4 linked regions of the Homo sapiens genome follow. The protein of the gene in region 1 purifies or fractionates together with the protein of each later gene. This does not show direct contact. Each region holds a gene or a part of one and is shown in the gene's direction. Other genes may lie near its edges.

The links.
Region 2: the proteins of VCPIP1 (region 1) and UBXN2A purify together in Homo sapiens (affinity purification with mass spectrometry; 2 studies listed by BioGRID and IntAct, with this or other methods). This does not show direct contact.
Region 3: the proteins of VCPIP1 (region 1) and NPLOC4 purify together in Homo sapiens (affinity purification with mass spectrometry; 2 studies listed by BioGRID and IntAct, with this or other methods). This does not show direct contact.
Region 4: the proteins of VCPIP1 (region 1) and FIGNL1 purify together in Homo sapiens (affinity purification with mass spectrometry; 2 studies listed by BioGRID and IntAct, with this or other methods). This does not show direct contact.

The regions. Positions count from the first base shown.
Region 1 is NC_000008.11:66,628,255-66,636,542, reverse strand, and holds the end of VCPIP1 (deubiquitinating protein VCPIP1), read left to right. Parts: intron 1-1,170; coding exon 1,171-2,042; 3' UTR 2,043-8,056; downstream 8,057-8,288. UniProt on the Homo sapiens protein: Deubiquitinating enzyme involved in DNA repair and reassembly of the Golgi apparatus and the endoplasmic reticulum following mitosis. Necessary for VCP-mediated reassembly of Golgi stacks after mitosis.
Region 2 is NC_000002.12:23,999,068-24,006,302, forward strand, and holds the end of UBXN2A (UBX domain-containing protein 2A), read left to right. Parts: intron 1-587; coding exon of another isoform or gene 588-604; coding exon 605-800; 3' UTR 801-5,842; downstream 5,843-7,235. UniProt on the Homo sapiens protein: Acts to repress the ubiquitination and subsequent endoplasmic reticulum-associated degradation of CHRNA3 by the STUB1-VCP-UBXN2A complex in cortical neurons.
Region 3 is NC_000017.11:81,626,766-81,635,053, reverse strand, and holds part of NPLOC4 (nuclear protein localization protein 4 homolog), read left to right. Parts: intron 1-5,248; coding exon 5,249-5,329; intron 5,330-8,288. UniProt on the Homo sapiens protein: The ternary complex containing UFD1, VCP and NPLOC4 binds ubiquitinated proteins and is necessary for the export of misfolded proteins from the ER to the cytoplasm, where they are degraded by the proteasome.
Region 4 is NC_000007.14:50,446,563-50,454,960, reverse strand, and holds the start of FIGNL1 (fidgetin-like protein 1), read left to right. Parts: upstream 1-4,610; 5' UTR 4,611-4,660; intron 4,661-5,237; 5' UTR 5,238-5,843; exon of another isoform or gene 5,844-6,671; 5' UTR 6,672-6,780; intron 6,781-6,905; exon of another isoform or gene 6,906-6,993; intron 6,994-7,663; 5' UTR 7,664-7,673; coding exon 7,674-8,398. UniProt on the Homo sapiens protein: Involved in DNA double-strand break (DBS) repair via homologous recombination (HR). Recruited at DSB sites independently of BRCA2, RAD51 and RAD51 paralogs in a H2AX-dependent manner. May regulate osteoblast proliferation and differentiation.

The DNA.
Region 1 (8,288 bases):
TCAAACTCCTGACCTCATGATCTGCCCACCTTGGCCTCCCAAAGTGCTGGGATTACAGGTGTGAGCCACTGTGCCGGGCCTATTTATCTAAATTTTAATAACTGCATATACTTCCAACAGGTAGATAGGAAATAATTTACTTATTTCTTGTTGAAAATTTAGATTTTTTTCCATTGTTTCATTGTAAGTAATACTGTGATGAACATGTGTGGAACTATGATTCTTTCTAGGGATAGCCAAGGAAAAGCATCTCAGTAGCAATCTGGAAACACCTGCAAAACCTTTTTTTTTTTTTTTTTTTTTTTTGAGATGGAGTCTTGCTTTGTCACCCAGGTTGGAGTATAGTGGTATAGCGGCGCCATCTTGGCTCACTGCAACCTCCGCCTCCTGGGTTCAAGCAATTCTCCTGCCTCAGCCTCCCCAGTAGCTGGGACTACAGGCTCACACACCACCATGCCCAGCTAATTTTTGTATTTTTAGTAGAGACTGGGTTTCAACATTTTGGCCAGGCTGGTCTTGAACTCCTGACCTCAAGTGATCCACCTGTCTGCCTCCCAAAGTGCTGGGATTATATGCATGAGCCACTGCACCTGGCCTCAAGCTCCATTCTTTTTTTTTTTTTTTTTTTTGAGATAGAGTTTCACTCTTATTGTCCAGGCTGGAGTGCAGTGCCGCAATCTCAGCTCACTGCAACCTCTGCCTCCCAGGTTCAAGTGAGTCTCCTGCCTCAGCCTCCCAAGTAGCTGGGATTACAGGCGCCTGCTGCCATGCCCAGCTAATTTTGTGTATTCTCAGTAGAGTTGGGGTTTCACCACGTTGGCCAGGCTGGTCTCGAGCTCCTGACCTCAGGTGATCCACCTGCCTTAGCCTCCCAAAGTGCTGGGTTTACATGTGTGAGCCACTGTGTGACCTCAAGCCCCATTCTTAACTTTGCTGTTAGTTAAGATAGCAAAAAAATTTTTTTAAAAAAGATTCTCTGGGGAGAACTACTTTAGGGTCTATGGCGGTGGTTCTTTTTTGTAATACAATAAATCTGAATGAATTTTGTTTTGAAAGCTGTTATCTGTAAATTGTTATTTAAAATTCATTATTTTAACTATAATTGTCTTGACTACACTTTTATTAATACCTTAAGATTTTAATATGTTAAATATCTTTTCCCCTTTTTAGGTATGGCTGATGGCAAGCATTGTACTTTTCCACATCTGCCTGGCAAAACCTTTGTCTATAATGCTTCTGAAGATAGACTGGAATTGTGTGTGGATGCTGCAGGACATTTCCCCATTGGTCCTGATGTTGAAGATTTAGTTAAAGAGGCTGTAAGTCAGGTTCGAGCAGAGGCTACTACAAGAAGTAGGGAATCAAGTCCCTCACATGGGCTATTAAAACTAGGTAGTGGTGGAGTAGTGAAAAAGAAATCTGAGCAACTTCATAACGTAACTGCCTTTCAGGGAAAAGGGCATTCTTTAGGAACTGCATCTGGTAACCCACACCTTGATCCAAGAGCTAGGGAAACTTCAGTTGTAAGAAAGCATAATACAGGGACAGACTTTAGTAATAGTTCCACTAAAACAGAGCCTTCTGTATTCACAGCTTCTTCTAGTAATAGTGAGCTTATTCGAATAGCTCCTGGAGTAGTAACAATGAGAGACGGCAGGCAGCTTGATCCTGATTTGGTTGAGGCCCAGCGAAAAAAATTGCAGGAAATGGTTTCTTCTATTCAGGCTTCAATGGACAGGCACCTTCGGGATCAAAGTACAGAGCAGTCACCATCTGATCTTCCTCAAAGGAAAACAGAAGTTGTGAGTTCTTCTGCAAAGTCTGGGAGTCTTCAGACTGGTTTGCCTGAATCTTTTCCTTTAACTGGTGGTACTGAAAATTTGAATACAGAAACAACTGATGGCTGTGTAGCAGATGCACTGGGAGCAGCCTTTGCCACAAGGTCAAAAGCACAAAGGGGAAATTCCGTGGAGGAGCTTGAAGAGATGGATAGTCAAGATGCTGAGATGACTAACACAACTGAGCCAATGGATCACTCTTGATTTAATTAGAGGCTAATAAAGGCAGAATGTTTATTGTGAATATGTAATATTTGTTGGCTGGGCCACGTAACTTGATTAGTCATTAAAAATCTTGTACGTATATAATTCAAAGATTATATCTTGTTATTCAGTGCATGATAGCAAGTGTGTGATTGGCCATAGCTTTTAATATACTGCTGCCCAGGCTGGCTCTGAATTTCTATAAATTAGCTGTTAGATCTGCTGAGATGACTTTCTTCCATATATGTGGTTCATTGGAAGTTCTTTGTAATTTTAATTCCATGAAAGTCTTAATGTTTCCAACATGAAAATTCTCTTACTTAAATACGTTTGATTTCTGAAAAGCCTACAAATGGAGGGGAAATGAGATTGTGCTAATGTTGATGTCATCAAGGTAACCATCTCATATACTAGTGTCAAAAGGTTTATGTAAACTTGAATTTTATCTGAACTAAATTGTATCTTAAAATTCATACAATTATTTATTAGACAGTGGAATGCAAATGTTTCTATGAACGTAAACACATTCATAGAGATTTCTTGGCGAAAATATCTTGAGAATAGAATGTAACGATATAACATTTTGCTGATTTGTGCAAGATTGGGGAAAAATTTCTTCTAGATTGATGAGGTCAATGTGATTCAGTTGTGTTGCTGTCTGAGCCACAGCCAATTGTGTGTGCTCTATTAATATGTTACCATTATTTTTGATTCCTGGCTTGGTCAAGAACAACCTGATTTTTTTTTTTTTAATCTTGCAGAAAAGTTGATTGCAAAGTGTGGTAGAAAAAGAAATAATGGTAGCAGTAGAGAATTTATAAATAAGAGTTTATCTTTATGAATGAGTTAATTGTTCTACAATTTTGATCAGTGGTATTTAAGCCTGTATATGCTAAGTGTATTTATGCCCCTTTGAGCCAAAATTTTTTTTTTTTTTTCAGAATCCATAAGAGTTTATTTGTTGGCTTCACTTGGGTTTAGATGCAAATTTTACTGCATCACACCCTGATCAGCTGGGTATTTGCTTAGTGTATTCATCAAATCTTCAGTGCCAGTTTCCTTGAGAAGCAGCTTTCATGCTTATTCCTTAAAAACAACAGAAGAGTGTTTATCCTGAGATTGGTATTGCACTATTTTATTTTATTCTGCAAATCTGTATCCTGAAGTGTACATTTCAACCCATATTCTTCTCTGTTCACTGAAATTAAGTTGAATTTGAATGGCTGAAAGACAAAATATATGTTAATACAATCTCTTACCTAGAGCATTCAAAGCCTGGCTGTCTCTGTTTGCACATGTAACAGATGCAGAACTGTGTTTGTAATTCTAAGAAAATGTATGTCAGAAAGTATTTTATCAGATGTTTAAAAATCTCTGCCTGTTGATTCATAAGGGATATAGACAGTACTTTAACTTGTGTTTCCAGATAAGGCAGATTTTGGTCATCTTTCTGTGAAAGTATCTCTAACTGAATCCACTTCTTAAACAAACTACTCTATTTTAAATAAGGAAAGAATGGAGAATCTAGACATTTTACAGGTGTATCTGAGCAAAATATATATTTGGGTTAGTTTTTATCACATTATCACGTTTGTCTTTATATTTTATCTTCATCCTAAATTTTCTCCCTATCAAAACAGCAGGAAATTTTTAAACTTTTATATTGTACACTATTTTTGCATAAAATAAGAGCTGTAGCTACCAAATACTATTTACTACTTAGTAAAGGTGGCTTCTGTGTATTAAACTACGAATTACAAATATCACTTCACTAACCACTATAATTATTTTTGGCTTTTTCAGCCACTGGAACTTTTTTTGGGGGGATTTAAATACAGGAAAACTGTTTAAGCAAAAAATGCACTGCTTTCATGTAAAATGATATAATCTTCTTTAACAAATATTTTCTTCATTGATAACTGACAGATATCTCATAGCATTAACATAAAATACCAGAAACAAACTTTATCTCCCTATTCTTACATTTAGTGCAAATTGGAATGCGTATGTGAATGTTAGAAGATGGACTTAATCTCTGACAACTTTATTAATTTCTCTAGCTACAGCAATGCTATTTAAAAGCCAGTTAGGTATGAATAGTACAGTAATAGTTTGGGTTCTCCCTTGATAAATGAATAAAAGGCTCAATTCTGATAAGTGATCAAATTTCTTGAAATTCTTTCAAATCAGCTGAAAATTTGGTTGGGGTGAATTGATGGTTTTTGAGAAGTAGGCCAGGTATCCTCACAAAGAAGTTTTAGAATAGGGTTTCTTTTAAGTTTTTAAATATCATCCTTTGTCTTTCCATATGGTTTTCATAACCAAATACATGACTATAGCATGGTTATTTTTCTAGTACTGCCATTTGTGATATAGCCACATCTTGGCGTGCAAGCTAGACATCTCAGGTAAATTTGTTTTTTTTTTTTTTTTTAGCCCTAGAGGTAACATTATAACTAAAATGCATTCCTGCAATTCTGTTTGCAGTGCTTCACTAAACATTGAAATAAAGTTGTAAATTTTTTCTTCAGTAATCCATTTTATAGTTAATCATACCAAATTTAAGTTGATGACCTAAAGTCCAGGTAGTGTTGAAGATAGTATGTATCTAGAATACTGGTAATGAGAAATTGTTGTAAATTGAAGAAAACAAGATGCTGCCATATATTAAGATAGAATATAATTAACTCCATGAGAATGGTTACTCAGGAACTAGTTAAAGAGCAAACCCATTTCTCCCGCTTCACTCTGTTTCAGATATTTTTATTGGAAAATGTTAGGGTAGAGGCCTGAGAAAGTTAGCAAATGCTATTGACTGATACTGGCTCTGTGTCTTCCAGTGATTTTTAGTTTGGTTTTTACAGTCAAGCCTACTGCTTGCAATTAAGATATCAATCTGAAATGCATCTGTAATTCCTGGCCACAGGTCCTTATTGCCATTATTTTTAAGTATCTTCATTGGAGATGAACACTGACTTTTGCATATGGTCTCTTACCTCAGGGAAGATCACTTGCTAGCAACTCATACTACTAATGACAGGTTTTTGAGAATTGTACTGACATCACATGTTAGCTACTAAATGCAAAATGTATAAAAGTATTGTTTTATGTAGTTACCTACCAATACTATCTGCTACTGAATAACTCTCTAAATATGTAGACCTCACTAATAACTAACCTTTAGGTAAAAAATTTACTTCTGTCATTAATTACACTTCAACTGGTCAATATAGTGGCAGCATAAAGTGTTTATTTCAGAATATCAATACAGTTTTGTCTTCATTTTTCAACAGTAATTTCAATTGGTTCATACTTAAAATACTACACAGATTTTGAGTTTTATGGTTCTCAAAGCAAGGTTTCCATCTTAAGATTTTTATAAACACAAAGCCTTTGCAAAATTGGATTAAATTCCACCTATCTTAATGTGAATTAAAAACCACCATTTATAATAATAATAGCGCCATATTCTAAGTTGAGTAAATGCATCCTACCATTCAAGGTTATCATATAATTTAACAAAATTGTACAACCTTAAGGCTCTTCACAGTATAAATTAATTTTTCAAACCAGAGCTGTTCACATGAAAATATTCCTTAGTAGAATGTATATTTAAGAAATAAAACAACAAAGGGGAACTATATCACCCATGTAAGTTATAGAGTTAATTACAAGTTCTACCATTCTTGATAATTCTTTGAGATGCTAAGTGTTTCAGTTCATATTTAATGATACTTAAATCGTGGGAATTTTAATGTTTGTTCCAAAATAGCAGAAATTGTAAAAATTATGAATTATTGGAGAAAATGCCATTACTTGTATATCTGACATTTAATTTTTTAATTATGGAGACTACATGCTTTTGTAGTATAATATTAATGATTATTCTCTTGTAAAAGAAAAGGAAAAATTAGTAAAGAAAAAAGTTTTAGTTGATGTTACCTGCTTGTGAGTATCAATTACTTAGTTTTTAAATTTTTAAGGTATTGCCTACTTTTCTTTAGAATGCAGAAATCTCGTCCTGAGCCCTTATTATGCCTGTGGTAGAGCAATGCAAGACTGAAAAGGTTGCCAGTATTTTCAGGCTTATTTGACTAAGAATTAGTGCCAAGAACTGGAAAGTCTACTTTTTGGAGGGAAATGATACTTAGAATTTGTAAACATAAGCAGTAATAGTGTAAATATTTAGAAAAATAGCAAGTGCTTTAACTGCTCAATAAAATAGTATAGATGTTATTTCACCCTTAAGGCACTGGCTGTTGCCCATTATTTTCCGATTTCGTGATTACTGTATATATTACATTTGAGTAATGAATAATTGGTAATAGTGTATTATAGTGTTCTACAGCACACCTTACTGTACAGTATTTGAAGTTTTCTTTTATATCAATAATAAAACTATAAGTTAATACTGATTTTCCCCTGAAATTCTCCACATTAGCTTTTAAAGGTAATTTTATGTTCTTTAGTTTCCTGGAATTATAATGCATGAACATATAGTTCAGTTTTATAAAGAAATTCTTAAATAATAAAGTTTTCTTGTTGAACTTAAGCGGGTTATCGTACAGGAATAGTGATTTTTCCCCTTAATGTAGATTTCATTGCTAGATGAAATGGACCCAGTGAAAAAAGAGTGCGCAATTTAAAAAAAAACCAAAACGGTCTCACTCTGCTGCCCATGCTGGATTGCCGTGGCATGATCAGGGCTCACTGCAGCCTCAACCTCCTGGGCTCAAGTGATCCTCCCACCTCAGCCTCCTGAATAGCTGGGACTACAGGCATGTGCCACCACACCTGGCTAATTTTTGTATTTTTTGTAGAGATAGGGTTTTGCCATGTTGCCCAGGCCGGTCTTGAACCCCTGAGCTCAAGTGATCTGCCCTCCTCTGCCTCTTTAAGTGCTGGGATTACAGGCGTGAGCCACCGCACCCTGCCAGCAAAATTTCTTTAGACATATTACATAATTGGGCCATAATGCTTACTGAATATTTAAAAATGAAGGCAAATTCTAACAGAGAACTTGATTTTGTGGTGGTTTAAAAAAATACTGGTTAGTGATAAGGAAATGAAAGGAAATACAGATAATAGTACTAAATAACGTTTGTGTAGCTTAGCAGTCAACACGTTTACTTCCAAGTTTTATTGTATATGCTTAATATACATTTTATTAGATCATTTAACTCAATAATTTAGAGTATAGCCTTAGACACCAGACTGCCTAGGTCTGACTCCTGGTACGCTGCTTTCTGTGACCTCTCTGTGCATTCCTCTCTGCGAGGATGATGATCACATCTGCTCCCAGGGTGGCTGTCTTAAATGAGTTAACACGTATCTGATGATTAGAAGAGTGCCTGACACATAGTAAACACTCAAATATTTGCTATGTTATATGTTAATGTAATGTGGTAGAGTTCAGTTGCCATTAAGTGGGATAAATCCTCACAGGGCACACATTATTTAAATAATTTGTTACATTAAAACTTATTTTACTTGTACATAATTGACTAAAAAATGGGGGGTTGTACATTCAAACATTTATGACCATGTGCAACACTGAGAATCTCAAACCGACAGTGTGCTCTGTGACCCAAGGCAAGTCTTGGAGCCTTTCAAGGCCTCAATTTCTTCTGTAACCTTGTGGTTTCACAATTGTCAACCTTTTGTTCTGCCGACCATTGTCGTCATAGTCTTACTTGCAGAGGGCATAGTGCTGATGGGACAAGTGACATGGGTATGAGCCCCATGTAAACTAAAACATAATTACCTTTCCTTTAGGTGTTGGCTACAGTTATCCCAAACTTGGACTTGAGGTCTTGTATATGCATGCCATTGGTCACATACCATCAGAATAGAATTCTCAAAAACTCTTTAGTAAATAAGATAAACATCCTACTTATAACAGCTCATTATGGATTTTATTTTTATTGTCTGGCTCTTTCAGACCCCAGCAACTGCAATTCTGACTTAATAATCAATTGTTTCTAATCATTAAAAATGTATATAGAAAAACTGAAGTAAGTCTTTAATTGATTTTCTGAACTGTATATGATACACTGAGGTGAAAAACATATGGGCTCTTCAAATTTGCACACTCTAGAAGTAAACCTGTCTTTGGCCCATTTGTCATACCACGTAAATTATTTGAGAAACAGATAAATTGTGTAGGAATCTGGGGGGATTATTCCTGTTTGTTCTATTTACAGAAACAGGTATAGTACAAAGTCTACCTATAAAGTGATGACATTT
Region 2 (7,235 bases), on another chromosome or scaffold:
GCACGTAGTGAATTTTAGTGAATTGATTGAATGAGAGAATTCTTTCTTTAGTGATAGGCATATTTCATTAATTCTGAGTTGCACATTTTTTCACATTTTAGCATCTGTGAAATGAGGATGCATTCTATAATCCATGGCTACATGACGATCATGATACAATTGTGACAGCCTCTGTAAAACATAGCCATAATTCCTTTGTCTTACCTAAGATAATTAACAGTAGTAATTCATAGTACTAATTATCTTACCTAAGATAATTAACAGTAGTAGTAGTATTGTCATCAAATTTCTGGGAGTCAAACTTTAAAAGATAGCCCAAATAATCAGTTATATCATAAATTCAGTTATTCTATATATTAACATATCCAGAGTCTGGGTGTTGTGGCTCATGCCTGTGATCTCAGCACTTTGGGAGGCTGAGGCAGGAGGATCAGTTGAGCCCAGGAGTTATTATGATGGCACCACTGCACTGCATCCTGGGTGACAAAGCAAGACGCTATCTCTAATAATAACATATCCAGATACTTTTACCAGTTGTTGTTACTATAAATTAGGTAATTCAAATTTTCCTAAAATTATATTAATAGTTTTTGCTGTTTTACAGAGTAAGCCATATCAAAGACTTCATTGAAAAATACCAAGGATCTCAAAGAAGTCCTCCGTTTTCCCTGGCAACAGCTCTTCCTGTCCTCAGGTTGCTAGATGAGACACTCACACTGGAAGAAGCAGATTTACAGAATGCTGTCATCATTCAGAGACTCCAAAAAACTGCATCTTTTAGAGAACTTTCAGAGCACTGATTTTTGATAGACTAAGTGGAAAATTTGCAGAGAAATGATGGTTGTAAGTGGACATGCAAACCAAAATTGGGGATTGGAGAAGTCAGACTCACTAGACTTTTGGTTCGAGTACTATTGAACTCTCTCCTGATGAGAAGATGTTTAGATAAGTACAAGTTAAGAAAGTAGCATATGACTGGAAACTATATTCAGTGCACTTTCTCCAAAAGACTACCCAGAAAAATAGACTTATTTTCAAATACCAGTTATCAAGATATATTAAATAGCTGTATTGTTTAGAATCTTAATATGGTATAAATTAGCATATGTATTCACAATATTCATTCAGACATCATTCCCAGACAGCAGGGATTTATTTAAATGTTAGCTGTCTGAGTTTTTAAATAGCTAATACGACCGGGTACAGTGGTTCATGCCTGTAATCCCAGAACTTCGGGAGGCCGAGACAGGCAGATCACGAGGTCAACAGATTGAGACCATCCTGGCAAACATGGTGAAACCCCATCTCTAGTAAAAATACAAAAATTAGCTGGGCGTGGCGGTGCGCAACTGTAGTCCCAGCTACTCGGGAGGCTGAGGCAGGAGAATCTCTTGAACCTGGCAAGTGTAGGTTGCAGTGAGCTGAGATTGAGCAACTGTACTCCAGCTTGGCGACAGAGCAAGACCCCCTCTCAAAAATAAATAAAATAAAGTAAAATAAATATAAATAATTGTGGCCGGGTGCAATGGCTCATGCCTGTAATCCCAGCACTTTGGGAGGCTGAGATGGGAGGATCACTTGAAGCCAGGAGTTTAAAACCAGAATGATCAACAGAGTGAGACCCCTGTCTATATATTTTTTTAATTTAAAAAATAAAAGAATAAAATTGTGTAGCTCAGTATAGTATCAAGATTAATCTGCCTACTCACATTTCTACACTTTATAAAAATGTAATAAAAGAAAATTATCTTTCTAAAAAGCCTATTCCCTTTCCATTTTATTTTCTTTCAAAAATTATGGATTTGTTTTTGGCTAACATTTGGGATTAGCCATTCATTTGCCACCACTCACTTAGAATATAATGCCGGTGTGTGTCACATTACTAGTATTTTTTAAATGCATCATATAAAGTATGGTTTTCTGTTTCTTTTTCGTTTGTTTGAGATGGAGTTTCGCTCTTGTTGCCCAGGCTGGAGTGCAGTGGCGCAATCTCAGCTCACCACAACCTCCACCTCCCGGGTTCAAGAGATTCTCCTGCTCAGCCTCCCAAGTAGCTGGGATTACAGGCATGCGCCACCATGCTTGGCTAATTTTGCATTTTTAGTAGACACGGGATTTCACCATGTTGGTCAGGCTGGTCTCGAACTCCCGACCTCAGGGGATCTGCCTGCCTAGGCCTCCTGAAGTGCTGGGATTACAAGTGTGAACCACCGTGCCCAGCTGGTTTTCTGTTTCATACATCAGAGTCAACTTGTGAATACATTTAAAGATTATTTCATTTTGATATCACGAAGAAAAACAGGCTTTATATCTCAGACTTTAACTAAATCCAGTTAGACCTCAATTTTTCACTGTCAGATTAAATCCCCATACCTGAAAATAAGTTTAACATTTTTTTTTGCAAATGATCTATTGAATCAGATTTAAAATGAAGCATGCATTGAGTGTGCCAAGGAACTAAGTGGTCCATAGCAGCAGTAATGTTCATAGGGTGCGAGATGCCTGCTATGAAACAGCAACTCTCAAACATTTTTATCTCAAGACCATTTGTTTATGTGAGCTATATATATTATTATATTAAATATTAAATTTTTAAAATATTTATTTATGGGCCAGGCACGGTGGCTTACGCCTGTAATCCCAGCACTTTGGGAGGCTGAGGCAGGCGGATCACAAGGTCAAGTGATTGAGACCATCCTGTCCAACATGGTGAATCCCCGTCTCTACTAAAAATACAAAAAAAATTAGCTGGGTGTGGTGGCATGCGCCTGTAGTCCCAGCTACGTGGGAGGCTGAGGGAGGAGAATGGCTTGAACCCGGGAGGTGGAGGTTTCAGTGAGCCGAGATTGCGCCCCTGCACTCCAGCCTGGTGACGGAGCGAGACTCTTTCTCAAAAAAAAAAAATTATTCATTTAAAAATAACTTCTGGCTGGACATGGTGTCTCACGCCTGTAATCCTAGCACTTTGGGAGGCCAAGACAGGTGGATCACTTGAGCCCAGGAGTTTGAGACCAGCCTGGGCAACAAGGCAAAACTCTATCTATAAAAATTACAAAAATTAGTGCAGTAGCTCACACCTGTAATCCCAGCACTTTGGGACACTAAAGCGGGCAGATCACCTGAGGTCAGGAGTTCGAGACCAGCCTGGTCAATGTGGTGAAACCATGTCTGTACTAAAAATACAAAAATTAGCCTGGTGTGGTGGCACATGCCTGTAATCTCAGCTACTAGGGAGGCTGAGGGAGGAGAATTGCTTGAACTCAGGAGGCAGAGGTTGCAGTGAGCCGAGATTGCGCCACTGCACTCTAGCTTAGGCAACAGAGTAAGACCCTGCCGTAATAATAATAACTTTTTTTTTTTTGAGATAGAGTTTTGCTCTTTCCCCCAGACTAGAGTGCAATGGCGCGATCTTGGCTCACTGCAACTTGTCCCCCCGGGTTCAAGCGATTCTTCTGCCACAGCCTCCCGAGTAGCTGGGATTATAGGCGCCCACTACCACGCCTGGCTAATTTTTGTATTTTTAGTAGAGACGGGGTTTCGCCATGTTGGCCTGGCTGGCCTCTAACTCGTAACCTCAGGTGATCCGCCCGCCTTGGCCTCCCAAAGTGCTAGGATTATAGGCGTGAGCCACTGTGCCCAGCCAATAATAACTTATAAAACATGAAACGATTTAGTGAGAAAAGTGGCCGGTTTTTTGGGGGGAATTACTTTCTGTCATAAAGAAGATAGATGGGTTCTCATGTCTTCTACATTCAGTCTGTTGTGCAGTCACATATCATGTAGACTCTGGAAAACACCTCTGTATACTGGTGAAAGAATGAAAAGAAGCAAATAATGCCTTAGTATGATTATGAAAAACGTTTTGACTTCACAGTGCCCTGAATGGGTCTTGGGAATCTCCAGGGATCCCTCAGGCACACTTTGAGAACCAATCTATATAAAGTGATGGTTCACAATGATTCTGAAGCCTTAGTTTCAGAATCATTTGGGGCAGCTTTTCAAAAATGCCATTCCTGCCACCTACCACAAAGATTCTGATTCACTGTATCTGTGATGGGTCTCAGATCTCTGCATTTTTAATCTCACGTGATTCTTAAGTATGTGGTGGAAGTACCTTTCTTCAGGAAATTCTGTCCTAAGCTTTTACCCTGAGAAAATAAAACCTGCATGCTTTCACCATGGACGGTGGGAGACTCCACTGAAACACATCTGCTAGACCACTAAGTTTATCCTTGTCACCCAGTTTGCTCTTGGAAAGAGTCTGTTCCCTTTTGTCACTGAACCAATCATGACATAAACTTGTGCTTTACCTCCTATAGCACAGCCGAGACAAGGCTGGAACATTTAATTAAGGTTTTTACTAAGGACTCAGGAATAACAACAGGGAAATATCTATGTAACTAGATGACCTGACATAAAATCTATCTTCTGATTGCAGTCTATTGTGAGAATGCTGCTTTTCCTAGCTCCCAGCCTTCCATGGGGCAGAAGGCTCTTTTAATTAGGAAGAGAGGGAGGACAAAGGAGAGCCTTTTCTTTTGTCCATTACTCTTAGAAATGAACAGGTACATAATAGAAAATAAATAATTATTGTTGGTAATGTTTACACAGCAGTGTTAGAGCCTCTCTGTAGTGAAACAAAAATAATGTTCTTACCAAAAAAAAAAAAAAAAAAAAGAGGCAATGATAAAATCAATGAGCTTATCTTTCTGATATAGAAAATAACAGGATGACAGTTAATACATGTTCAGGAATCTAAGAAAATGTTTCATATAGGCCTATCATGTAGCATTTTTATTTGCATAATTATAGTCAACATATGATTCTCCATGTAGGGGTCTCTCATTGAGAATGTTTCCTGTGTACCTATAGAAAAGCCTCTTTGGTAGATTTTCCGGTTTATAATTATTTAACCAGAAGATACATGGGAGGTTCTTTTGTATGTACCTGTAGAATACATCCCAGTAAGGGTCCTATGGAGAAAGACCTGTTGTCATCAATAACCTTCATTATTCTAACTGTGAAACGTTCATTAATGCGAATAATATCCTCAAAGATTTTCTACAATGAGAATCATCCAGTAAAGCTTTTTAACTGAGAATTTAAAAGTTGTAAAATTGTTAGTTAAATGTGTATAATTATCAAAAGAGGTTGACTTTGGAAAACAAACAATTTGCTAAGGGAAGGAAAACTTGAAAATAATCACCTTAGATGGGGCATACAATTTGACCTAAGCAATTGTTTCAAAACTGTCTTCAGTTTCTTGAAAATAATTGTTAGGGCTGATATATAGAAATACATATCTAGGCCAGGCACGGTGACTCATGCCTGCAATCCCAGCACTTTGGGAGGCTGAGGTGGATGGATCACGAGGTCAAGAGATCGAGACCATCCTGGTCAACATGGGGAAACCCCGTCTATACTAAAAATACAAAAATTAGCTGGGTGTAGTGGTGTGCGCCTGTAGTCCCAGCTACTCAGGAGGCTGAGGCAGGAGAATCACCTGAGCCCCGGAGGCAGAGGTTGCAGTGAGCCGAGATCGTGCCACTGCACTCCAGCCTGGGCAACAGAGCGAGACTCCGTCTCAAAAAAAAGAAAAAAAGAAATACATATCTAATGTTACAGATTGTGGTTTATTGGTTAATTACTATGCATTTTTTTCAGTTTAAAAAATAATCTTATTTTATATACTTCTCTCGGTATAATTTTTCATGACATTTCAGCATGTTGATAATATGTGTGCATCTATTTCAGTGCCTTAAAGTATTTTGAGAGCAATCTTTTGCTGACAGTTGAAGAACTGTTAATGAAATACTGTTCATTAAAAGGATCTGTGAAATCATTTACCCTTGTTATAAAATAGTTATATGCAAATACACTTGTCATTTTATTTGGCAAAGTCATTCAGTTTGATAATCAACAAACATTTATTAGGTGCTTTTGCTTTAACCAACATTACTTTCATTTAATACTCAGAAATGTAAAGATGTGCTATTTTTGAATACTAACTCAATGATATGTTTAATTTTTCATTTATTCTTTGTGTTATCAGCTGAACTAGCATGAAGACTCTTTAGTAGGGTTTACTCCTTTGTTCTTTTCCTAAGTACAAACCATTTTATGAAAAAATTGCTCATTGCACTAAACCTTCAGATGGAAATGGCTTATTCAGTAGACCAGTATTTGGCTTTGTCATTTGTTTTAATGTATTTTTTGCACAGATAATTTATATTCATTATAGAAAACTATAATATGCAGATATGCTAAAATGATCCTTAAATCACCTATTATTCTGCCTTTCACATATAACCACTACTGGTCCTAGTGGTGCATGCCTGTTGTCCCAGCTATTCAGGAGACTGAGGCAGGAGGCTCGCTTGAGCCCAGAAGTTCTGGGGTATAGTGTGCTCTGCCAGTCGGTCAGGTGTCTGCACTAAGTTTGGCATCAATTTGGTGATCTCACTGGAACGGGGGACTACCAGGTTGCCCATTGGAAAAGGAGCAAGAACGAATGCTGATCAGTAGTGGTAGTACACCTGTGAATAGTTTAAAAAGTGAAAAAAAAAAAAGCCAGGCGCAGTGGCTCATGCCTGTAATCCCAGCAGTTTGTGAGGCCGAGGTGGGCTGATCACAAGATCAGGAATTCCAGACCAGCCTAGCCAACATGGTAAAACCCCGTCTCTATTAAAAATACAAAAATTAGCCAGGCATGGTGGCACGCGCCTGTAATCCCAGCTACTCGGGAGGCTGAGGCAGGAGAATCGCTTGAACCCAGGAGGCAGAGGTTGCAGTGAGCCGAGATCATGTGGCTGCACTCCAGCCTGAGCGACAGAGCAAGATTCTGTCTTGAAAAAAAGAAAAAGAAAAAAGTAAAAAATAAAAATTAGAAATTAAAAACTACTAGTAACATTTTGATGTGCATCCTTTCAGATATTTTTTAGTATATCAGCTTTTAGTCTTGTTTTAATTAAAAGGCAGCTGCCTTTGTTATTTAATCCTACTTTATTGAAATCTAATTTGTCTTTTGCATTAAAAATTACATTATGAACTTACCATCACTTTAAATAGAATACTGACTGTTAGGGAAATGACTTTTATTATAATTACATTTTTTGCTGTCCAAAAGAGTTATTGTTTAATTTTTTTTTTTTTTTTGAGATGGAGTTTCACTCTTGTTGCCCAGGCTGGAGTGCAATGGTGCGATCTCAGCTCACTGCAACCTCCACCTCCCAGGT
Region 3 (8,288 bases), on another chromosome or scaffold:
TCTTTTTAATTAAAAACATTTTTTTATAGAGATGAGGTCTCTACTATGTTGTACAGGCTGGTCTCTGAGCTCGAGGGATCCTCCTACCTTGGGGTCCCAAAATTGCTAGGATTACAGTCCTGAGCTACCATGCCCGGCCAAGAAACCTTTGACTCCTTTGAAAAATAAAATGTGGCCATGCAGTGGCTCACGCCTGTAATCCCAGCACTTTGGGAGGCCGAGGTGGGCGGATCACGAGGTCAGGAGTTCAAGACTGGCCTGACCAACATGGTGAAACCCTGTCTCTACTAAAAATAAAAAATTAGCCGGGTGTGGTGGCATGCACCTGTTATCCCAGCTACTCTGGAGGTTGAGGGAGGGGAATCGCTCAAACCCGGGAGGTGGAGGTTGCAGTGAGCCCAGATTGCGCCACTGCACTCCAGCCTGGGCGACAGAGCAAGACTGTCTCAAAAAAAAAAAAAAAAGTGTTAATCATTGGTGACTTTGCCTAGAAATAGGTTAGGAATTAGCACTGAAACCTTCTTTCAAACTACCTTTGTACTTTTAACTGAGTTAAAATAACCATTGACAAGTGAAAAGTGTTTCAGACAAGGCCATTTTTTTTTTCCCACTAGTGTATAAGGCTAGGCTCTCATTGACAGCATTGGATCTCGTTGAATGTCTCAGATTGTGAGGAATTAAAACACTCTTCTTTTGAAATTGATTTAAAAAGTTATTTTGAATTTAAGAAAGAGATCTTTTGAAAAGTTTCTGGGCTGGGCATGGTGGCTCACACCTGTAATCCCAGCACTTTGAGAGGCCGAGGCAGGTGAATAATGAGGTCAGGAGTTGAGACCAGCCTGGCCGACATGGTGAAACCACGTCTTTACTAAAAATACAAAAATTAGGGCGTGGTGGCTCACGTTTGTAATCCTAGCACTTTGGAAGGCCGAGGCAGGTGGATTGCCTGAGCTCAGGAGTTTGAGACCAGCCTGGGCAACACGGTGAAACCCCACGTCTACTAAAAAAAAAAAATACAAAAAATTAACCGGGCGTGGTGGCGTGCACCTGTAGTCCCAGCCACTCAGGAGGCTGAGGCAGAAAAGTTAGAACCCGGGAGGCGGAGATTGCAGTGAGCCGAGATCGCACCACTGCACTCCAGCCTGGGTGACAGAGTGAGACTCTTAAAAAAAAAAAAAAAATTAGCTGGGCGCGGTGGCGGGCGCCTATAATCCCAGCTACTTGGGAGGCTTGAGGCAAGAGAATTGCTTGAACTCGGCAGGCAAAGGTTGCAGTGAACCGAGGTCGCGCCATCGCACTCCCACTCTGGGTGACAGAGCAAGACTCTGTCTTGGGGGGAGAAAAGAGTTTCTGTGGATTTAACTGTATCTCACCAGTTCTTCAACTTCCCCAAGAAGCGTTCTAGTCTTATTTTCTTATAAATAGGGAAACTTAAGTTACCAAGAGGCTGTGTGTTCATGTTGTCAGGTCTGTCTCTTCCTGTGTATTTCATTTTGTAGTCTGTGTCAGAGGCTAGGCCAGAACTTTCCATCGTACAAATTATGTTTGTCTCTTGTTAAATACTGGAGTTGGCCTTGGAAACCTGGACTCCCATCTTCTGTGGTAGAGGATCAAGTAGGATGACTTCTTCACCTTAGAATTCTGCAGCCTGAACCATTTAGCTCTGTAAAGAATGGCGGTAACATGCTCTTGTTCCAGAGTCATCGTTTGAAGGAACATTCACATGTTCCCCTTCATTAGAACAGAGCTTTCCTTTTTAAGATAGCTAAGTGTTGGCAGACAGATTTTAGAAACAAATAAGTGGAAGTATTTACCTAATGCTATATATTGTGAAAACGTTTTTCTGGGGTATTGAATCTAGAATGAAGTATACTAGACGTTAGAAGTATAAAGAATTGTATTTCTTTTCTTTTTTTTTTTTTTTTTGAGACGGAGTCTTGCTCTGTCACCCAGGCTGGAGTGCAGTGGCGCGATCTGCTCACCACAAGCTCTGCCTCCTGGGTTCACGCCATTCTCCTACCTCAGCCTCCCAAGTAGCTGGGACTACAGGCGCCCTCCACCACGCCTGGCTAATGTTTTGTATTTTTAGTAGAGATGGGGTTTCACCGTGTTAGCCAGGATGGTCTCAATCTCCTGACTTAAAAGTTGAGAACATATTGGGTGGAGCCTTTTCTGCCAAGTGAAAGTTATGGGAAAATGCAGGACAGGGTTATCCTATTTTAGGAAAATCTAGATTAGGCTTAGTTACTTTACTAAAAGCGGACAAATCCCAGTAGACTGAGCCTTTATGGTGTTTTGTCCTGTATCAGTGGAAATCTTTTTTAGACAATGGCTTGTGACAGTTTTCATCTGCATAATGGTTGAAGAGGATGTTTAATGTAACACTCGTGGTAACCTCACAGAAAATAGTTATAGAATTTATGAAAAAGGAAATAAGGGAGGCCGGGTGTGGTGGTGCACACCTGTAATCCCAGCACTTTGGGAGGCCCAGGTGGGTGGATAACTTGAGGTCAGGAGTTCGAGACCAGCCTGGCCAACGTGGTGAAATCCCATCTCTACTAAAAATACTAAAAATTAGCCAGGCGTGGTGGCAGGCACTTGTAATCCCAGATACTCAGGAGGCTGAGACAGGAGAATCACTTGAACCGGGGAGGCAGAGGTTGCAGTGAGCCGAGATCACGCCATTGCACTCCAGCCTGGGCAACAAGAGCTGAAAAAAAAAAAAGAAATAAAAAAGGAAATAAGGGAATTGAAATGTTTCACTATAAAAAATCAGCTAGGCCAGGGTTGGTGGCTCATGCCTATAATCCCAGCACTTTAGGAGGCTGAGGCAGGTGGATCACCTGAGGTAGGCGTTTAAGACCAGATTGACTAACATGTTGAAACCCCGTCTCTACTAAAAATACAAAAATTAGCTGGGCTTGGTGGTGCACGCCTGTAATCCCAGCTGCTCAGGAGGCTGAGACAGGAGAATCGCCTGAACCTGGGAGGCGGAGGTTGCAGTGAGTGGAGGTTGCAGTGAGCCGAGATTGCGCCACTGCACTCCACCCTGGGCAACGGAAAAAGACTGTCTCAAAAAAAAGAAAATTAGCTGGGTATGGTGGTGGGCGCCTGTGATTCCAGCTACTCAGGAGGCTGAGGCAGGAGAATCACTTGAACTCAAGAGGCAGAGGTTGCAGTGAGCCAAGATTGCGCCATTGTACTCCAGCCTGGGCCACAAGATTGAAACTTCATCTCGGGGAAAAAAAAAATGAGCTAAATACAAGAGATGGTAATGCAGGAAATGAGAGAGAAAGAAGCTATAGAATGCACCATCAGTCTTTGCTGAGAGGAGAAGCTAGGACACTTATGCGCATGTTCCTGTCTGCCTTCCTTCCCGTCCCGCGGATGGTTGGAGCAGGTCTTTGTTTGCTGCAGAGCATGCCATGTCATCCTCCTTGTCTAAAGCAGGGGCCTGTGCTGTTGGCCAGGCATGATAACTCACCTTCACGATGGCTTTCATCAGCATAAACATCAAGTTGTCTTAGAAAGTAATGCCCTTTGTCCAGTAGTCTTCCAGATCTGCCAACCTTTTTAGGCTTGCCGTGGGGGAAAAAAAAAAAAAAAAAAAAAAAAAATATATATATATATATGTACACTTTAATATGCATATATGCACACACACGTTATTAAATTAGGATGGGGTCTCGCTGTGTTGGCCAGGCTGATCTCGAATTCCTAGGCTAAAGAGATCTTCCTGCCTTGGTCTCCTGAAGTGCACAGATTATAGGTGTGAGCCACTGTGCCCAGCTGAAAATATTTTTTCAAAACCCTACTAAATTTTACCATTAAAGACCTTTATTGCTTTTAATTTTAATTTCTTTTTTAAGTTTAAATTTTTACTTTTTTTTTGAGACGAAGTCTTGCTCTTCGTCACGCAATGGCACGATCTTGGCTCACTGCAACCTCTGCCTCCTGGGTTCAAGCGATTCTCCTGCCTCAGCCTCCCGGGTAGCTGGGATTACAGGTGCCCGCCACCACGCCCAGCTAATTTTTGTATTTTTAGTAGAGACGGGGTTTCACCATGTTGGCCAGGCTGGTCTCGAACTCCTGACCTCAGGTGATCTGCCCGCATTGGCCTCCCAAAGTGCTGGGATTACAGGCAGGAGCCACTGTGCCCAGCCTAATCTCTTTTTTTGAGACAGGGTCTCACTTTGTCACCAATGCTGGAGTGCAGTGGCACCATCTTGGCTCACTGTAGCCTCGACCTCCCTGGTTTAAGTGATCCTCGTGCCTCAGCTCCCCAAGTAGCTGAGACCATAGGCGTACGCCACCATGCCTGGCTAACTTGTATTTTTAGTAGAGATGGGGTTTCCCCATGTTGCCCACTGGTCTTGAACTTCTGAGCTCAAGTGATCCACCGCCTTGGCCTCCCAAAGTGCTACAATTACAGACGTGAGCCACTGTGTCTGGCCATTTTTAAACGTTTTTTAGGGAAAGTAAGTAATAGCTGGCGTTGTGGCTCACACCTGTAATCCCAGCACAGTGGCAGGATCACTTGAGCCCCGGAGCTCGAGATCAGCCTGGGAAATATGACACTCCGTCACTACAAAAAAAAAAATTAACCTGGTGTGGTGGTGCAAGCCTGTGGTTCCAGCTCTCGGGAGGCTGAGGTCAGAGGATCACTTGAACCTTGGATGTCAAGGCTGCAGTAAGCTGTGATTTTGCCACTGCACTCCAGCCTGGGTGACAGCAAGACCCTGTCTCAAAAAAGCAAAAAAAAAGTAACAATTAGAAAATTTCCTGTGATTCTTTTAAATTGTAGGACTCTTGAAGACTGTCTAATGTTTGTATATAGATCCTGGAACAAAGTAACATCTTTTTTTTTTTTTTTTCCCCAAAGTAACATCTTTTTTAAAGAACACAGTTCATTCATGGTTCATGGTGGGTTTTTCTCTGTTTTAAGTCTGAAGAGACAAAAAGTGTTTTACATATACTCTATAAATAGTGATTAGGAATTAAAGTTGTTTTCTGAGTGAAACTAAGAGTTGAGAGGACAGTACTCTTAAAATATCTCCCCATATGTTGATGAATCTCACCCCTCGGCATCATATTCTAGAAGGATTGAGCTGGGTATTGAAAGGTGAAGAGTGAGGTTTGGCTTTAATTTTCAGTGACCCAGATGCTAAAAGACCACAGATGGAAGCCGTAGTATTAGATCAGGACCTCACTAGGCTGTGCAGTAACCATCATGTTTTGTTTGCAACAGATAATTCGTGTCCAGTCCCCGGATGGAGTGAAGCGGATCACAGCAACAAAGAGAGAAACAGCAGCAACATTTTTGAAAAAGGTATCTGTGGCCTGGGTATTGACCCTCAGGATATTTTTCATCCTCTACTCTTACTGCCATCGATACCTTTTCTCTTTTCCTCGTTTTCTTATTTTCCCTATTCCCAAATTGCCTCTTGCATTGCCTTTCTCTATCACAGTTGGGTTGGATTGCTATAGGATGAGATGTTTGTCACAGCTGATCACTGCTCAAAATTATAGGACCAAGAGCCCAAAGGTAAGTGTAAAAATATTTCACGGCTGGGCGTGGTGGCTCACACCTGTAATCCCAGCACTTCGGGAGACCAAGGCGGGTGGATCACGAAGTGAGGAGTTCAAGACCAGCCTGGCCAAGATGGTGAAACCCCGTCTACTAAAAATACAAAAATTAGTCGGGCGTGGTGGTAGGTGCCTGTAATCCCAGCTACTTGGGAAGCTGAGGCAAGAGAATTGCTTGACTCAGAAGGCAGAGTTTACAGTGAGTCGAGGTGGTGCCACTGCACTCCAACCTGGGCAACAGAGTGAGACTCCATCTCAAAAAAAAAAAAAAAAAAGTATTTCATAAGAGTGGCCAGGCGCAGTGGCTGACGCCTGTAATCGCAGCACTTTGGGAGGCCGAGGCGGGCGGATCACAAGGTCAGGAGATTGAGACCATCCTGGCTAACATGGTGAAACCCTATCTCTAGTAAAAATACAAAAAATTAGCCGGGTGTGGTGGCGGGCACCTGTAGTCCCAGCTGCTGGTGAGGCTGAGGCAGGAGAATGATGTGAACCCAGGAGGCGGAGCTTGCAGTGAGCTGAGATCGCGCCACTGCACTCCAGCCTGGGCGACAGAGTGAGACTGTCTCAAAAAAAAAAAAAAGTATGAATTGTAGATATGACTACAGTTGACTCAAAGAATCATCCCTGGCTCCTCCCTGGTCTCCTGACCTGCATTGTGTCCAGGATTCCCATGACAGTTTTTCTTTTTTTAACCAATCACAAAATATTTCATTTACTGTGATAGTTGCATATTATGTACTTCTTAGCTTATCTTCACAGTTTCTTCCTTATTTACTTTTCCCATGGATTCCCCCAGACTATTTCTGTCTGGTGTTGTTTCTCTTCAGACTGAAAAACATCCATTAGCCTTTGTTGTAGGTAGGTTTGTTGGTCACAGACCTTTGGGTTTTTTTGACCTGAAAATGTTTTCGTTTTGCCCTGTGTTTATATGAGGGTTATTTTCTTTTTTTTTGAGATGGCATCTCACTCTGTTGCCCAGGCTGGAGTGCAGTGGCATGATCTCGGCTCACTGCAACCTCTGCCTCCTGGGTTCAAGCAATCCTCTGCCTAAGCCTCTCGAGTAGCTAGGATTACAGGCACCCGCCACCATACCTGACTAATTTTTTGTATTTTTAGTAGAGACGGGGTTTCACTATCTTCACCATGCTGGTCTTGAACTCCCGACCTCGTGATCCACCCGCTTCAGTGTGAGCCACCGTGCCCAGCCATGAAGGATATATTTTCTTTTTCTTTTTTTTTTCTTTTTTTTTTTATGAGAGGGAGTCTCGCTCTGTCTCCAAGGCTGGAATGCAGTGGCATGATCTTGGCTCACTGCAAGCTCCGCCTCCCGGGTTCACGCCACTCTCCTGCCTCAGCCTCCCGAGTAGCTGGACTACAGGCGCCCACCACCATGCCTGGCTAATTTTTTGTATTTTTAGTAGAGACGGGATTTCACCATGTTAGCCAGGATGGTCTTCATCTCCTGACCTCGTGATCTGCCCGCCTTGGCCTCCCAAGGATATTTTCATTCAATACAAATTTCTTTTTTTGAGATGGAGTCTTTTTCTGTCGCCCAGGCTGGAATGTGGTGGCGTGATCTCGGCTCAGTGCAACCTCCGCCTCCTGGGTTCCAGCAGTTCTCCTGCCTCAGCCTCCCAAGTAGCTGGGATTACAGGTGTGCACCACAATACCTGGCTAATTTTTGTTTTTGTTTTTTGAGACAGAGTTTCGCTCTTGTTGCCCAGGCTGGAGTGTGATGGCATGATCTTGGCTCATTGCAGCCTCTGCCTCCTGTGTTCAAGCAATTCTCCTGCCTCAGCCTCCCGGGTTCAAGCAATTCTGCCTCAGCCTTCCGAGTAGCTGGGATTACAGGCATACGCCACCAAGTCCGGCTAAGTTTGTCTTTTTAATAGAGATGGAGTTTCACCATGTTGGTCAGGCTGGTCTCGAACTCCTGACCTCAGGTGATCCACCCGCCTTGGCCTCCCAAAGTGCTGGGGTTACAGGCGTGAGCCACTGCACCTGGCCTCAAAACAGATTTCTGAGTTGACAGTTCATTTTTGTTCCCCACCATGCATCAATTTTTTTTTTTTTTTGAGACGGAGTCTTTCTGTTGCCCAGGCTGGAATGCAGTGGCGCGATCTCGGCTCACTGCAAGCTCTGCCTCCCAGGTTCATGCCATTTCCCTGCCTCAGCCTCCCGAGTAGCTGGGACTACAGGCACCCGCCACCATGCCCGGCTAATGTTTTTTGTGTTTTTAGTAGAGATGGGGTTTCACTGTGTTAGTGAGGATGGTCTCGATCTCCTGACCTCATGATCCGCCTGCCTCGGCCTCCCAATGTGCCGGGATTACAAGAGTGAGCCACCACACCTGGCCCTTTTTCTTTTTTTTTTTTGAGACGAAGTCTCATTGTGTCGCCCAAGCTGGAGTGCAGCGGCACAATCTTGCCTCACTGCAACCTCCGCCTCCCGGGTTCAAGTGATTCTGTTGCCTCAGCCTCCCGAGTAGCTGGGACTACAGGCTCGCACCACCATGCCCAGCTGATTTTTGTATTTTTAGTAGAGACGAGGTTTCACTATGTTGGCCAGTCTGGTCTCGAATTCCTGATCTCAGGTGATCCGCCCGCCTCAGCCTCCCAAAGTGCTGGGATTACAGGTATGATCCACCCTCACCCAGTCCATTTTAAAATTATTATTATTATTATTTTTGCCTAGGTTGG
Region 4 (8,398 bases), on another chromosome or scaffold:
GGCAGTCTCAGTGTCTTCAAATAACATAAACGTGTTCTCTCACAGTTCTGGAGGCAGAAACTGAAATCGAGGTGTTGGCAGGGCCATGCTGTCTACAAAGTCCAGCTGTTGGTAACCCAGACATTCCTTGGCTTGTGACAGCATCACTCCAATCTCTGCCCCCATCTTCACATGGCCTTCTTCCCTCTGTGACTCTTTTCCTTTTCTTTATAAGGACACCAATCAATCAGATGAGGGCCCACCCTAATCCAGAAGGACCTCATCTTAACTGGATTATGGCTGTAACAACCCTCTTTCCAAATAAGGCCACATTCACAGGTGCCAGGGGTTAGGGCTTCAACATATCTGTTTGGGGGATGCAATTCAACCCCTTACATACTGTACCAAACTGGAGGCACCTAGAAGTGTTGACTCCAATTGGTAGCGCAGTCCTTGAGGAAAATGACGACCCAAGCAAATGTTTCCTTCAATCTCTGCTCTACCCCGTTTCAGGTGCTATAGAAAAATTACGGGAGGGCATTGTTTTAGAGTGAGCTCCTGCACTAGGTCCCAACAGACCAAACTAAAGTGGAGTCACTCATGCTAAGTGCCATTTAACCAAGCTGAAACTTTAAGAAAGCTGGTGGTCCCCAAATAGACCAGTTTTTCTTGAAAACAAGAGTCACAGCAACCCATCAGAAAGAGTTCAGTCTGCCTGAGTCAGAGTAATAAGGAAGTCCCATTTGCTTTAACCATGACGAGAAAAGTAGTCTGAATTAAGCTGACACTAACCAATCAACCTTTAAAATAATACTGTTTCCTTGTTCCCACCTTACAAAACCACTGTTCTGCCATTCCCCAGTGGGAACTCTAATTCTATTTTATAGAATGGAGGCTACTGGATTCATGAATCATGAATAAAAGCCAATTTGATCTGTAAATAATTTTGTCTTTTGACACCAGGAGAACACCACCTCCCCCCTCACCAGCTGTGTTTATGACAATGATGCCAGAGGTAGCCTCTTCACATCCCTTTATGATTCATTCAGTATGGCCAATGAAAATCTTTTACTAAAATTGTGCACTTGCTTCACCCTGGGCTCACACATCTTACTCCTCTGCTGGAGGGCTAGAACACCATCCCCTCAATCCTGGTACTTTTTTCTTCCTTACCACTGAGTCAGGGAGCTGAGAGGTTTGGAAGTCAGTGGGAATCCACACAGAGAAAGAACTGGATTTAGATTGGGCTGTTTTCCCTCTGAGCTTTGTCCTGTTGGCTTCCCTATCTCCTCAACACCACCTGCCTCCCGCACCCACCGACACACACATCTCCAGAATGTAACTCTCCTGGCTGACAGGGAAGCACATTATTTAGGGCCGTATTATCCCCTCTGCTCAAAAACAAATGAGCTCACCGAAGTGTACACTTGCATTTATCTGAGACCATGTTTATAAAATTCATGAATATGGAAATGGGCAGCCATCTCCCAGAATCCCTCACACCAAGAGAACTGGCACTGTCTGCTGTAGGTGAAAACCTCTTCCCTTGAAGGCTCAACAACTTCTACCCAGAAGAAGAAAAGAACAGCATATTCTTTCTCATACACACACACAAACACACACACACACACACACGCACACAGTATATACCACCAGTCTGTGGTCTTGGAAGCAAAGTTTAATAATTGAATAGCTCAAGCACTAAACTCTTACATATTATTAAGATACTATCCTAATATGTCTCATTTGTCAAAGATGGAAAAGTTTTGATATGACATAAGGGTTTCAATCCCAATAGGAATATTAATGGTAACAATAAAAATAACATAGCAACACGGTTTCTGTTGAATGCCTGCCACATGCCAGCAACTGCTTTGATAATTAAAGAATTATATCTTATGTTGATTATAATCCTTATAATGGCTTCCTGGGTAAGAAAGGTTTATTACTGTTTTACATTTGAGGAGGAGACTAGGGTTCAGAGAGGGTGCAGAAGTGAGTTACACTTTTGCCAACCAGGCCAGAAGATGAAAGCCGCTGGATTGGGAAATGCTTTTGTATCAAAAGCACAAAATGAAGTGGCTAGTGTTACTTGTTGGAAAAAAATTAACTTTGGCAAGCATAAATATAATTCAGTATTTGAGCAATACTTTTAGGAGGGTAACAGAGTGGTTTATGTGAATTCTCCAAAATGCCATCATGAAAATTTTGATGATGAAAATCACCTAAAATTGCTAATTACCTGTCTTAGCCTGTCTAGGGCTACAAAGTACCATATGCTGAGTGGCTCATAAACAATAGAAATTTATTTCTCACAGTGGAGGCTGGAAGTCAGAGTGCCAGAATGGTCGAGTTCTGGTGAGGGCTCTTCCAGGTTGCTGTCAACTCTTTGCATCCTTAGGTGGTGGCAAGAGGGCTAGAAAGTTCTTTGGAGTCTCTTTTATTGTATTTTATTTTTTGGAGACAGTCTCACTCCGTCCCCCAGGCTGGAGTGCAGTGGCGCGATCTCAGTTCACTGCAACCTCCACCTCCTGGGTTCAAGCAATTCTCAGGCCTCAGCCTCCTAAGTAGCTGGGATTACAGGTGCCCACCACAACACCTGGCTAATTTTTGTATTTTTAGTAGAGACAGGGTTTTGCCATGTTGGCCAGGCTGGTCTCGAACTCCTGACCCCAGGCGATCCACCTGCCTCGGCCTCCCAAAGTGCTGGGATTACAGGCATGAGACACTGCACCCAGCCTCTGGAGTCTCTTTTATAAGGATACTTACTATTCTCATCCATGAAGTCTCCACTCTCATGACCTAATCACCTCACAAAGGCCCCGCCCCTTAAAACCATCACATTGGGCTTAGGATTTCAACATACAAATTTTGGGGGGACATAAACTTTCCATCCCTAACATTACCCAAATAGTATCTATATAGTCATTTCTAAATATACACGTATTTAGAAATTTCTAAATAGCCAGTAAACATACAACTGACTTGGCCTTGATATAACTGTTTTCATTTTCTTTTATTTTCATTCTACATGACATATTTTGGGTAATTATAAAATAATTAAAATTAGTTGATAAAGTATGGAATTAGAATAAAATAATTTTCTATTACTATCTAAGCCATGAAATGAATTAGGAGATGCTGTTTTCAGTGAAACGTCTTCTAGTTTTTAAAGTGCATTGTCCAATTCCTTTTTATTTTGTGAAGATTTTAAAAACTTAAAAAAAGTCTTCAAATTGTTTGTGCCTTGCATTTCTTTAAATCTTATGTTTAAACATCATGTGCTGCTAGTTGCTAGTCATTTTCTCTATCCCCTGCCCCAGACCCTCTCTTTCTCAGGAAAGGATATCCAGGGATCCGGGTCCCAGTTAGTCAAGGAGATATAAGAGGAAGGCTATGAGGCTTTCTGGGAAACATTTTCTTTTTCCAAGAGAGAAGTGTTCAGAGGGAAAAGGTCCTTTCTCAGTTTGGCTCCCTCTTTGTGTTTTAGATCTGGTCATGTGAGGCTGCCTGGCTTGGATTGTGAGGGCATCTCTCGACAATGAAGTGACAAGCCTGGGGAGGAAAATCCACAGGCGAGAAGGTGGCAGAATGGAGAGATGGTCCTTCATGACTTCTTTGAGTCACCAGGTCCAGATTTCCCGCCAACCTCCAGTCTTCTTGTTATGTGATCTGATATCATTATTTACTGCAGAGGCCACTGAGTGGATGCTCTTACTTGTGTCTGAAAATCCAATTCACTAAATTAATCAAAATACGGCACTCTTCTTTTGAAACCTTGCTCCAGAACAAAGTGGAAGGTAATGATGGGGTGCTTTTCAAAGTTCCAGGGAGGTGTCCCTACACAGCAGACAGCTGTCCAAAGGAATGTAGATGTTGGCTGCGGGGAGATCTGAGTTGCCAGACTCAGTCAGAACAGGTGTCCTCTCCCTTATTTTATCTTAAACATGCATGTCATTTTTGCATGCTACTCTATGCGGTTCTTTCAGCCAGGGAACATTGCTGAGCACCCGCTCACGTGCTGTATGGAGCGCAGACTGCAGGGTGCGAGGGGCGGAGGTGATGTGCTAGGCCTGAATTCAAGAGGGGGCGCAGCCACAGGCCCCGCGATGCCGGGGTGGCCTCTTGTAACGACGTTTTAACCGCTGACCTAAGTGGATCCGCTCCTCTCCCGCCGCCCGCTCCCTGCCTGCAGCACAGGATGGCGGCTGGCTTTCCCGAGTGGGCGCAGGTGAGCCACGCTTGCTCTCCCGGGTGGGCGCAGGTGAGCCATTGTTTGCTCTCCCGGGTGGGCGCAGGAGAGCCACGCTTTGCTCTCCCAGGTGAGCCGCCGCTCGCTGTCCCGGTGAGGGGAAGTGAGCCACGCTCTATGGGAATCCTTCGAATCTTCATTCAATTTCCATCGCCTCCTTGTATTTATTTGGGAGTACTTTTAAAAATGAAGCCTATGCACAATGATGTAATAAGCGTTTATAGAACACCACTGGTCGGAGCTAGGGCCTAGGTGGCGGTGCCCGGGCCCAGGTGCCGCGCCCACGCCCCGCGCGCCGAACGCACGCACGCACGCACTCACGCACTCACGCACGCACGTACGGCGCGAGTCCGAGGGCGACAGCAGCGCGCAGGCGCACGTCAGTCCCCGCGCTTTTCGGAGGCTGCCAGCGTCCCACACCAGCCGCAGGTAGGATGCGGTGACGGGAGGCGGGGCAGGGGCGCTGCTGACCCCTGTGGAGCATCAGGGTTGGGGCGTAGGGGAGAGGCGGGCGTGTGCCTCTGGAATGCTGGGGGTCGCGGGGCGGTGACTTCGCGGGAGGCCGTGGGAGGCGGGAGCCAGGCAGTGGCTGTGCCCTTTTGCTTCTGTCTTAGCGGGAGGGTGGCTGACCCGCTAGCCCAGAACCAGACTCATCCAGGATTAGGAAGCTGGGGCCCGGCGTGGACGGCAGGCTCGGGGCCAGGTCTGCGGGCGGCTTCCTTTGGCAGAGCCTGTCCGGGGGCGGGGCCGCTTACCGCAGGCATTTACTGGGCCCAGCGGGGCTCTGGGCGCCCACAGCGGGGGTCAGTCAGTTCCCCTGTGACCCAGGCAAGCTCTTAATCTCTGTGATGAGAAAGAAGGGCTCATACCTTTCAGGGGTCATCGTGAGGAATCAGAAGAAGCAGTATTTTATAGAGTATTTTCTAAGTGCTGAGTCCTCTGTCTAGTGCTTTGCAGAATTAAAATACCTTGTCAGCTCAGTGATGTTGCTGCGCTTCTTTTATAGGTGAAAACCGGCAGAAAGACATTAAGAGATTTTCCTGCAGTCACTGCTGGCAGATGATAGAGCCAGGATTTGAAAGCAGGCAGCCTGGCTCCAGACCCTGTGCTCTTAACTCCCGTTTTGCATCAAGAACAGAATCCTATGAAAGGCTTGCACAGTGCTTGGTACTGAGTAGGCACTCCGTCAGTATTTTAGTAGCTATTATTCCAAAGGACACTGTATTCTAGGTACTAAGACAATGTGAATGGAATGGAAAACAATTCCTCCCTGCAGAAGCCAACTGTCTAGGAAGACAGATAATGACATTATTAAAATAATCAGAACATTGGCAAAATAAAGAAGATTGAAATGCAGTTCATATGACAGTGCTAATTAATCATACTTTTTAGATCTAGGAAAGGCCATAAAGGTTAAATTGACTTGGAAATGGTAAACAAGACAATGGTTGTGTCACTGATCGGTGATGGCCAGTTTTTGGTTATCCTTATTTGCCATTTAAATGATTGAATTGAAAGGAAGAAGTAAGACTTGGAAGATGAATATTGAAGGAAAGGTGAAGATGGAAAAGAGAAGGGGGTTTATTCTGAGAACAGTGACTAGAACTCTGAGGTATGGTAGAAATTTCAGGATAACAGATGATAAAGGGGAATGAAGCCATGGAGAGGAAGAGAATGATAATATTAATTGTGAAAGTTTGTGTCAAGTGTTTTCTGAGTCACCTTTCTTTCAGTTTCTCATTTCTAGTATTGTATAAATGAGTTTAACATCAAAATGGTATAGTGAAAAAAAGGATGAACTGCTTGACAGAAGAGGTCAGATCTAGTTTTGACTCTAGCTTATTTAGCTTTACAGCTTTAAATAAATTACAGTGTCTTTAAAGCTCTGGATCTTAAGTTTTCTAATTGTTTTTTAAACAAAGATTTGTGAACACCTACTTACAATGTGACAAATGTCTTTGTAAGGCATTATGGGAGATAAAAGCTGCATTAAACCTGGCTGTTGTACTTACAAGTAATTTGGAAGGCAAAATTTCAAATACTTGAACCTAAAGTAGGGTTTCTTGGTTTTCATTTAATTGAAATACTGTTAGGAAACAAAAATTTTTCATAAATTTTTCTTGTGGATATGTAAGTAAATTCTATATATCTAGCAATATGATACATCTATAGTTCTGTTTAAAGGTAACAATGTGAGGAAGCTTATGCGAATAACTTGACAGAAGAAATCTAAAGTAAAAGCATTTTCCTAGTAGGCTAGCTTGTTCTCTTATTTCATTTATTGTAACAGTTTCACTTTTTAATAATTATGTGAAATTAGGAAACAGATATTCTAGGGCATTCTGTTTAGGGTGATGAACTTATTCATGAATGTTATTAAAACCATTTAAATATGCCATAGTTTAAATTTGTGATCCATGCTGTTCAATCTGTGACCTAGGATAGCAGCATCAAGGAGCATTGTGTACATGCAGAAGTGCACAGTACCTGGAGTGAAACTGCTTGTGTTCGATTTCTGATACCATTCATAACTGGCTGTGTGATCTCAAGTAAGTTCTTTAAGTCTCTCAGCCTCGGTTTGTACATTTGTGTGATAAGGATAATGATAGTTTTCAGATTATTTTCATAGTCATTGCTTGATTTGATTCTTCCAATGGTTCCTCTCACTTTGCAGATAAGAAAACTGAAGAACCAGCTGGGCGCGGTAGCTCACGCCTGTAATCCCAGCACTTTGGGAGGCTGAGGCGGGTGGATTACCTGAGGTCAGGAGTTCAAGACCAGCCTGACTAACATGGCGAAACCCCATCTCTACTAAAAATATAAAAATTATCCAGGGGTGGTGGCAGGTGCCTGTAATCCCAGCTACTTGGGAAGCTGGGGCAGGAGAAGCACTTGAACCCGCGAGGTGGAGGTTGCAGTGAGCTGAGAGCGCCACTGCCCTCCAGCAGCCTGGGTGACAGAGCGAGACACTGTCTCAAAAAAAAATAATAATAAAATAAAAATAAACCATCAGTGATAGTAAAAAGCTCACTTAAGCTCATTCACCTAGTTTTATAGATCAGACTTAAACCTCTTGTTTATTTTGTTTTGCTTTATGTATCTATAGTTCCATTGTTTTTAAAATTTAAAATTAATTTTAAACCTTATGAATGCTTTCCCTACAGATAAAATTATGTAACTAGAACAATTTAACTCATATAAATTATTATTTAATCAAGTCCTTAATTTTGAAGACTTCATATTGATATGTCTTGAATACTTGAAATCTATAGTTAACTAGATATTTCTCTTATAACCTGTCCTTATAAATCTACATTATAAATAAAAAGTCCAGTGTCCCTTCCTTCAGATTAGCAGAAGTTTCAAAATTACATTTAAAGTATTTTCTTTGTTTTCCTTCATACTGATTTTCATTTTTATTGTTTGTTATAGAACCTCTAAAATGCAGACCTCCAGCTCTAGATCTGTGCACCTGAGTGAATGGCAGAAGAATTACTTCGCAATTACATCTGGCATATGTACCGGACCGAAGGCAGATGCATACCGTGCACAGATATTACGCATTCAGTATGCATGGGCAAACTCTGAGATTTCCCAGGTCTGTGCTACCAAACTGTTCAAAAAATATGCAGAGAAATATTCTGCAATTATTGATTCTGACAATGTTGAATCTGGGTTGAATAATTATGCAGAAAACATTTTAACTTTGGCAGGATCTCAACAAACAGATAGTGACAAGTGGCAGTCTGGATTGTCAATAAATAATGTTTTCAAAATGAGTAGTGTACAGAAGATGATGCAAGCTGGCAAAAAATTCAAAGACTCTCTGTTGGAACCTGCTCTTGCATCAGTGGTAATCCATAAGGAGGCCACTGTCTTTGATCTTCCTAAATTTAGTGTTTGTGGTAGTTCTCAAGAGAGTGACTCATTACCTAACTCAGCTCATGATCGAGACCGGACCCAAGACTTCCCGGAGAGCAATCGTTTGAAACTCCTTCAGAATGCCCAGCCACCTATGGTGACTAACACTGCTAGGACTTGTCCTACATTCTCAGCACCTGTAGGTGAGTCAGCTACTGCAAAATTCCATGTCACACCATTGTTTGGAAATGTCAAAAAGGAAAATCACAGCTCTGCAAAAGAAAACATAGGACTTAATGTGTTCTT